Regions from separate parts of the Homo sapiens genome. Here region 1 is linked to region 2. Evidence: fine-mapped expression QTL. A gene starts in region 2. The other region holds a variant in brackets. All regions are shown on one strand. Distances are from middle to middle. Region 1 overlaps PIK3C2G (phosphatidylinositol-4-phosphate 3-kinase catalytic subunit type 2 gamma). Region 2 holds the start of PLCZ1 (phospholipase C zeta 1).

Evidence for each region. PIP is the estimated chance that this variant, and not a neighbour inherited with it, causes the effect.
Region 1: its variant is the best candidate, but not a certain one, in a credible set for the expression of PLCZ1 in sun-exposed skin (GTEx, PIP 0.64).

The regions. Positions count from the first base shown.
Region 1 is chr12:18,640,966-18,645,368 of GRCh38, forward strand. All of the region lies in intron 32 of PIK3C2G (phosphatidylinositol-4-phosphate 3-kinase catalytic subunit type 2 gamma), which reads left to right. Among named protein-coding and RNA genes, the nearest start is that of PLCZ1, 95 kb to the right of the region's middle. The variant C/G (reference allele first, on the strand shown) is at 2,748.
Region 2 is chr12:18,735,438-18,739,840 of GRCh38, forward strand. PLCZ1 (phospholipase C zeta 1) reads right to left here and starts at 2,575. Exons shown (of 15, transcript NM_033123.4): 1 at 2,495-2,575; 2 at 1,924-2,072; 3 at 784-907. The coding sequence starts at 1,934. It overlaps CAPZA3 (capping actin protein of muscle Z-line subunit alpha 3), which reads left to right and starts at 2,682. Exons shown (of 1, transcript NM_033328.3): 1 at 2,682-3,751. The coding sequence starts at 2,832. The coding sequence ends at 3,731.

The DNA.
Region 1 (4,403 bases), 94 kb before region 2:
ATACAAATGGAAGTTAATGTATATTATAAATAGCTCTCTAATTTATTTGTAATGTGCAATTCCCTAACTTCTTTCTAAGGCAAGCCCCTACATTTATTCTCTTGATTCCATCCTTTCCCATCTCCTCTGCACCTTGCTCAGCTGCTTATTTGTGTTCCTTTTCTTATGGCTGTCTCATCCACAGGATCCTCCACTCAGAAATATTAAAAAACAAAAACAAAAACTCCCCAACTCAGGCTTGCTAAGCAAATTTTCTTTCCCTCACTATCACCTCCAAACTTATCCAAAATTAACCCACATGATCTGCTTTCCCTTCATCTCTCCCTTTCACCCTTGAATGCTTTGCAATGTGGATTCTGACCTTTATTGATAGTACTTTATTCAAGGGGCATCAATAGACTCCTAACTGCTAAATCCAAAGAGCCCTCAGGCTCTCGTGCCTGGATCAGTTATACAGCAGCACTACTGACCACAGCCCCATTCCTGAAACCTCCGTTTTGCTTTTTGAGTTGTACCTTTTCTTAATTCTCTTCCATTTTCTCTACCACTTATTTCTCTACCACTTATTTCCATTTCTCTACCACCTCTCTCATTTTCCTTCATTGTTATTCTTTCTCTTAAAATATTATTGTTTACTGAAGTCACATGATCCATCCTCATCTCCTCTTCCTGTACATACTCTCACATTTATCTTGTGGATCAACAAAGTTTTATTTATCACCTATAGGTAGGTTGCATCTGAATTTACTCCTAAAACCCTGGCTTCTCTCTCTCAAGCTTTTTTTTTTTTTTTTTTTTGAGATGGAGCCCTTCACTCTGTGTCTAGCAGGCTGGAGTGCAGTGGCGCAATCTCAGCTCACCACAACCTCCACCTCCCAGATTCAAGCAATTCTCCTGTTTAAGCCACCCGAGTAACTGAGATTACAAGCTCCCACCACCACATCCAGCTAATTTTTGTATTTTTAGCAGAGACGGGGTTTTGCCGTGTTGGTCAGGCTGGTCTCAAACTCCTGACCTCAGGTGATCCACCGCCTCAGCCTCCCAAAATGTTGGGATTACAGGCGTGAGCCACCATGCCCGGCCTCTGTCACACTTCTACCTGATTACTGGGGAGCTCCATCTGAATGTCTCATAGGCACTTTTAGACCAGGCTTTCCTCCATTCATTCTTTCTTTTATAGATGGTACCTTTGGGGTCGAAACTAAGAAACTCTTTGTCTAGCACTGAGTCTCAAAGATTTTCTCTTATAGTTTTTTCTAAAAGTTGTATAGCTTTACATTTTACATTTAAGTACATTACCCATTTTGAGTTAAATTTTTAATAAAATGTGATGTTTAAGTCAAGGCTCTTTATTTCCCCACTGTGGATACCAATTATTCCAGTACTATTTGTTGAAAAGGCAATTCTTCCTCCACTGAATTTCTTTTGCACGTTTGTCAAAAATCACTTGGGAATATTTGTGTTCTTATACTCTTTTTGTTATCCCATACTTAGCCATATTTTCAGATCACATCAGACAGCTTGTCATTCCCTGAATGGACTGTAGGATTTTGTGATAGAACTCATGCCACCATTCACCTCTCTCTGCCCTTCTCTGCCTGCTTTGAGACTGACCTCAGATGTGAACTCTGCAAACACTGTCACCTCGTGGACTCACACCACACTTATAATCCTTTCTTTAGTCCTACACGGTTTTTCTTCTAGTATATCATAAACTTCTCCAGGGCGGGTTAAATGTCTTATCCTTTTTAATACTTTTAACACTTAGTTACCTCTAAAATGATGTGTAATAAATATTCGGGGCAGTTTTATAAGTGACACTGTGTGTGTGTGTGTGTGTGTGTGTGTGTGTGTGTGTATAAAATGTAAATACATGTATATACTGCATATATATATAGAGAGAGAGAGATTCTCTAAACTGGTAAGGAAAAATATTTTGACACTATTATTTGTCATGATGTCAACAGTGAGAAGCATACACTTCCCAACAATATATCACTGTTTCTTTTCATACTTTTTGAGTACAAGTCTCCATGCCTCACTATCAAGAAACTTCTCAGACCCTGTGTTAGGCATAAGCATTTTCAGTATAAGAAAACATATAATAACAAGAAACCACTAACAATTCAGAACAATTTAAATAAACTTGTGTTTTATTTCAAGCTTTATGTATTATAAGAAAACAGTAGTAAATTATATTCATGGAAAATTATTTTATAATTCTTGCTGTGCACATAACTTTTCTGAGGGCTTGCAATACCTAGGTCCTCACACATCCATAACCCACTGATTAAAACTCACTACAAATCTTTCTCAATTGATCTATACTTGTAGCATGAATAGACACTTTATACTTTGGACACATTTTAAATTGCTTCGAAAGCCATGGTCCATGCATAGCCAATTCCGATGAGAACATAGTCCAATCAAGCAGAAATTTGAAGTAGTGTGTGTATAAGTGATGATTTTAGTAGTAGTCATTAGGACAGTAAGAGGTTTCTAATCATATAAACAATTCTGGCAAAGAAGCTGGGTGAATTCCAAGAGCCAAAAGGAAAAAAAGGCAACAACGGTTAATTTAATTTTTTTCATTCTATGCCTGTATCAACACAACAAGAATATTTATAAGAAATGCAAAGAAGCACACTAGATGTTAACTCTGATTTTACTGTCTCTTGCCCTCAGTTGTGATGTAGGATCCCATCTTTGTGTCAAACTCCTCGATCACTTGTGTGCAACCTCAAGAG[C/G]ACCTTACTAGATGTCTTTACCAATAAGCCCAGTGCTTACTAGAGAGCCCAGTGAGTTATCACAGGGCATCTACCTTGTTTTAAACTTTTCCTCCACTTCCGCCGCCTCACTGAGTACTGCTGCATCAACCACTCACCACAGCTGGGATTTCTCAAACTGTAAAAGCCGTGTACTGTTCTTGAAGTGGGAGAGGATGACCTCACTCTCCTCTTTATATAAATCTCTCAGAGGAGTACAAAGAAGATATTACACTGCATACCAATGTCTTACAAAGCCTTTTGTGAAAATAGTTCTTTTTATTTTTATTCCTATCCTCCTTTCTCCTTAATATCCAGAGATGAGAGGGGCTGGGTCGGGGACACAGAAAAGTGACAGAGTCTCCACCCTTCCCATACTAAGGCTTTGATGCAGGGCCAAGCTTGTCTATTTGACACTTCGCAGAGTGAGCCCCAATAGGCTTCATCAGCAGTCTCCCTGAAAACCCCTGTCATGTACAAATCCCAGTGATAGGCATGGCTGGTCTCAAGATGGGTCTGGGGCTGGGGGTGTGAGTGCTCAGGGAACTGCCATACAGCTTGAAGAAGCAGAGGTGGGATTCCGGGCTCCAAAGCCTCTTTCCACGCCACTACTTTTGCCATCTTCTTAAAAACCATCATTTTTCACACAATTCATTAGAAATACAGAATTTCTACCCTATGACAGAATTACATGCTTATAATCAATATATTTTGTATATTGTAACCTTTTCTTATATATTATTCTGTTGTAAGGTGTAAAGGGAAAATTAGAAAGAACAGAACAGGAACGTTCTATGCATTTTACATCCCTTAAAATCTCCTGCAGAATATACAGTGATTACTTAGCACAATGCCAAGTATATGGCACACTCAGTAAGCTATAGTTATTGTTATCTGTGTTATAATATTATTGCAATTTCAACATGATGAAAATTGTATTTGTAAGTGAAGACAATGTGACCCAGAGGTTACACAACTAGATGTCAAGCCCAGAACTGCCTGATTCCAAAGCTCATGGTTACCGCACTACACTATGCTGTTATTCCTACCTGTCTCCTCCCACGCAGTACCCCTGTTCTCGCTTTTGAACTCTTTCTTTCATTATCCTGCCTCCTCTACCACTTCCCACAAGCACTAGAGACACTTCAGTTCCTATCTTATTGTCCTCTCATTTCAATCATGAAAATACACTTTAGAATTATTTACTAGACCCTTGTGTCAACTAATGTTCAGTAAATTCTTGGAATGTTCAGTATATGTTAATAGATATTAATTACCTTAAGTGTTTTCTATTAGACGTAATAATTCCAAACCCACACATTTAGTTATTTGTCAGAAGGTAGTAAAGACTTAACTCATGCCTATAGGTAAAAATTATTAGAAAAAGAAATTAAAAGAGCTATTTATTTTTGGTTCTGAGTATGTACCAGAACCATTTTTTTTTGTTCTGAGTATGCAGAATATATATTAAATCCTTTGACGAAAAGGTCTCAAAGAATATAATCATCTCTGTACTTCGCTAACATTAGCCACTAATTATTCTTTGCTCAGTTGAAAAGAGTACTTACTATTTAACAACATCATGGATGCACCAAAGCAATCAGAATAGATATTTATCATCTATAATGTGCAATGATT
Region 2 (4,403 bases):
CTATGTTACCCAGGCTGGTCTCAAACTCCTAGCCCCAAGTGATCCTCCCACCTTGGCCTCTCAAAGCATTGGGATTACAGGTACAAATCACTGCACACAGCCTCTCAGTCTCCTTTTTGTTATTGGTCTGTTTAACCTTTCTAGTTCTTCTTGGTTCAGTCTTGATGGGTTATATGGTTCTTGAAATTTCCCTTTTTTTTCTAGATTGTCCAATTTTATGGTGTATGATTGCTCTATGTGTTTTTCATTTTTGTGAGATCTGTTGTAATGTCTCCACTTTCATTTCTGATTTTATTTGACTCCTCTCTCTTTTTTCTTACTCTAAGTATTTGTCAATTTTATTTAACTTTTCAAAAAAACAAGTCTTAGTTTCCTCAATTTCTTCTAATTTTTTTCTTTTCTATTTTAGTTATTTCTGTGCTAATCTGTATTATTTCCTCCCTTCTGCTAACTTTGGGCTTATTCTCCACTCTTTTTATAAATCACTAACATCTAATACAGTTACCATTATCAGTCTGATATAATTAGACATCCAATCCTAGGTTTAATGTTAGCATTTCTGTATGCTCAGGAAATTATTCTAAACTGATATCCTGGTATTATTTCAGATTTTCTCAACAACTAATTTTACCTTCTACTGAAATGCTCTCCATCTTGATTGTAAATATAGTTAGTATAATTAATTGCTTTTCTTCTTAAGAGACTAACCTTTATATGACAATTACTGACATTGGATTAAGTTCCACCTAGGATAGGATAGGCAGGGGGTGGATGTCATCTTACCTTAAAAATCTGTTTCACATGAATATAACTGCACCGAATATCTAATTTTTCAAGTAACCTCTGAGTTTTTTCTAGGTTAATTTTTCCACCTCTGAAGTCATCCTGAATCTTTGACAAAAACCATGTAGAAGCACAAAAAAGTTAAGGAAATTCTCACAGAAAGTCATTGAATATTTAAAATTCCTAAAGAAACATTTGATTTACTGTATTATTTTTATTTTTAAAGAATATGTTTAAAGTAAATTATAGTATAATTGTATGATAAATATTTTTTAAAAAACAAAATTAAGTAGTTACTATGCTATGGTAAAGGTATGAAAGGGCATAGCACAGTAAAAATACAAAAAAAAGAATTAAAGTTAAAATTTGAGAATTGAAGTCATTACTTAGAACATACATTAAAACATTATAACAATCTATTGCCTGAAGGCATGAAGTTGGAAGGCAGCTAGACTTCAAGATCGCCTCTCACCTGACCTCTCTGTTTTAGTTCTCTCTTCCAGAAAGGTGAGCAAATTAACCCTGAATCTTAAGGAAAGTGGAAGCATTAGATGAATTCCTAATATGCCACCGAACACAGTTTCTGCTACTTAGTGTTCAATAAATAGTAACCATGACTGATAAAGTTATTATTACTACATTAGTCCAATGCCCAGCTACACACACACTCAAGACAGTACCATCAAAAAGCATCAGAAATACCATGGTGAGTGTATATTTGGTATGAAAAACGAAAAAAATTTTTAAAAGCTTACTTATCATAGATAAACTACAAAAACTAGGACACTTCCATTTGAAAAACTAAGATCGAAATGAGATAATGACAATTATCACTAAAATTATAAAAGGTATAGGTAAAAATTGTGCAAAACTACTAAGTTTCAGATTGTTAGAACGAATTAATGAGATCTCCTTAAATTTAATAGTTATGACTTAATCCAGCAAAGCTCATGTTCTTGTAAGAAAAAGATACCAGAATGCAGGGAAAGTTAGAAAAGCTCAGAACAAACAGGGAAAAGCAGTTCAACTTAAATGAAGAGGACTTAAATTCAGAACTCCTCGAAAAGAATAACAGCATCAAGTAAAGAGGATAAGTAGGAGAAAGAAGAAGAGGAGCAGAAAGAAGCTCTCAATGGATATCTCATTTCCATAGTTTCATGACCTGTAGAGCCGTTTCTCCTCACTTAGAAGTCTTTCCCCAGTAGGTGCTGTCATGGGTTCCAAATACAATTAACTCTGCCCCTTTGCAGAAAATAATTTCTTGATACTCATCAGCTGTTACCACTTTTCTAGGGAGAAAGCAGAGAACACACAGTGGTTTTTTTTGCCTTCGTTCTTTGAAGCTAGCTCACACTTAACCATAGAAACAGTATGCAAGATGTGGTACCTGCACTACCCTGCCCTTGAAACTGTTTGGCTTCTTACGTTCTGACCACCTCCAAACCCACAATATTTGAAAACACAGCTTTCCCTGATGTCTGGCATTTTTCCATGAACTGCCATTGTATCTCCTTTTATTTTTTACTACTTTGTTTAAACCCCTCAAACCTTTCATCATAATATGCTTCCAGTGGGTTTGGGCAGCTACTCTGAGAGCCTGAGTATAAATCAACACCATTGTGATTCCTGAAGTTGCAAAGTGCTGTCACTCTTGAAACTTTGGGCTGCTTCTCTAGATCGTTGACAACATATAATGCACACAGAGACACACCACTTTCGAAGAAGACTGTTCAGGAGGCTAAGTTCTTAAAATCTTCAAAAGAGGTATAGCTGGTTGGCTGGGCACCACACTGTCAGGTGACTGTCATTTTTTCCTTTTGGTCTGAATTCCCATTGTGATATCATCAGAGGTTCCACACTTCACAAGGAAAGCTTCTTATGACCTCATCAGGAGGCTCAGACCTTGCCAGACTGCCTGCTTTCATGGATAGACATAAAAACCTTCAGCTTGAATGTTAACACCTTGATGGGAAAGGTGGCTCATGGAATGTTTTCTTATCCTTTGAACACTCCTCATTTCAGAAGCTTTGCTTCTGTTGCAACCAAACATGACACTTAGCGTGCTGAGCAGGAAGGACAAGGAAAGAGTAATTCGCAGACTGTTATTACAGGCCCCTCCAGGGGAATTTGTAAATGCCTTTGATGATCTCTGTCTGCTTATCCGTGATGAAAAACTTATGCACCACCAAGGTGAGTGTGCAGGCCACCAACACTGCCAAAAATATTCTGTACCACTCTGCATCGATGGAAATCCAGTACTCTTGTCTCACCACAATGTAATGGGCGACTACCGATTTTTTGACCATCAAAGCAAACTTTCTTTCAAATATGACCTGCTTCAAAATCAGCTGAAAGACATCCAAAGTCATGGTATCATTCAGAATGAGGCAGAATACCTGAGAGTTGTTCTTCTGTGCGCCTTAAAACTGTATGTGAATGACCACTATCCAAAAGGAAATTGCAACATGCTGAGAAAAACTGTCAAAAGTAAGGAGTACTTGATAGCTTGCATTGAAGATCACAACTATGAAACAGGAGAGTGCTGGAACGGACTTTGGAAATCTAAATGGATTTTCCAAGTTAACCCATTTCTAACCCAAGTAACGGGAAGAATATTTGTGCAAGCTCACTTCTTCAGGTGTGTCAACCTTCATATTGAAATATCCAAGGACCTGAAAGAAAGCTTGGAAATAGTTAACCAAGCTCAACTGGCTCTAAGTTTTGCAAGGCTTGTGGAAGAGCAAGAGAACAAATTTCAAGCTGCAGTCTTGGAAGAATTACAGGAGTTATCCAATGAAGCCCTGAGAAAAATTCTACGAAGGGATCTTCCAGTGACCCGCACTCTTATTGACTGGCACAGGATACTCTCTGACTTGAATCTGGTGATGTATCCTAAATTAGGATATGTCATTTATTCAAGAAGTGTGTTGTGCAACTGGATAATATAAAGAATTGCTCCTGGTAACTATCTTGATTTGACTTGTTTGTGTTTCTTGGGAATGGTTATTTTCCTAAAATTGAGCAATCTGTAGAGATGTCTCTCACTTAGCCAATGCAAATTTAAATGGGAAAAGTGTAGCAAGTAATTTTACTTGGGGAATATTTATGAACAAGGCAAGAAAGTGTAAAGTAACTGTGTTTCATGGTGGTGACCATCATAAAGACCAAGACATTTGTTAGAAACTAAAATAGTTTTATAGAATCTGGGATTCCAGAAATAGTATAGAGGTGGCCAGGGTTAAGGCTGTGTGTGGGTGTGTACGTGTGTGTGTGTGTGTGTGTGTGTGTGTGTGAGAGAGAGAGAGAGAGAGAGAGAGAGACTTTTGACTGTTTCGAACTGAAAAGGTATACAAATGAATATCACTCCACAAATGATATTTTACATAACTCAATTCAGTCCTAGACCATCCACGAGATGGGGAATTTCAATAAAAGACATTAGGTTTGGATTTTCCACAAAACCAACAGATATCAAAAATCTAGCTCAGATGAAGGACTATTAGTAATTTTGGCTCCTCTTCCACTCTACTTTCTTCCCCTCAAGAATTGGGGTTACTCAAAATCCCTGGCTTGTCTGATAACTAACATGGTCTTCCAAGCCAACCAGAGAAGCCTGACTT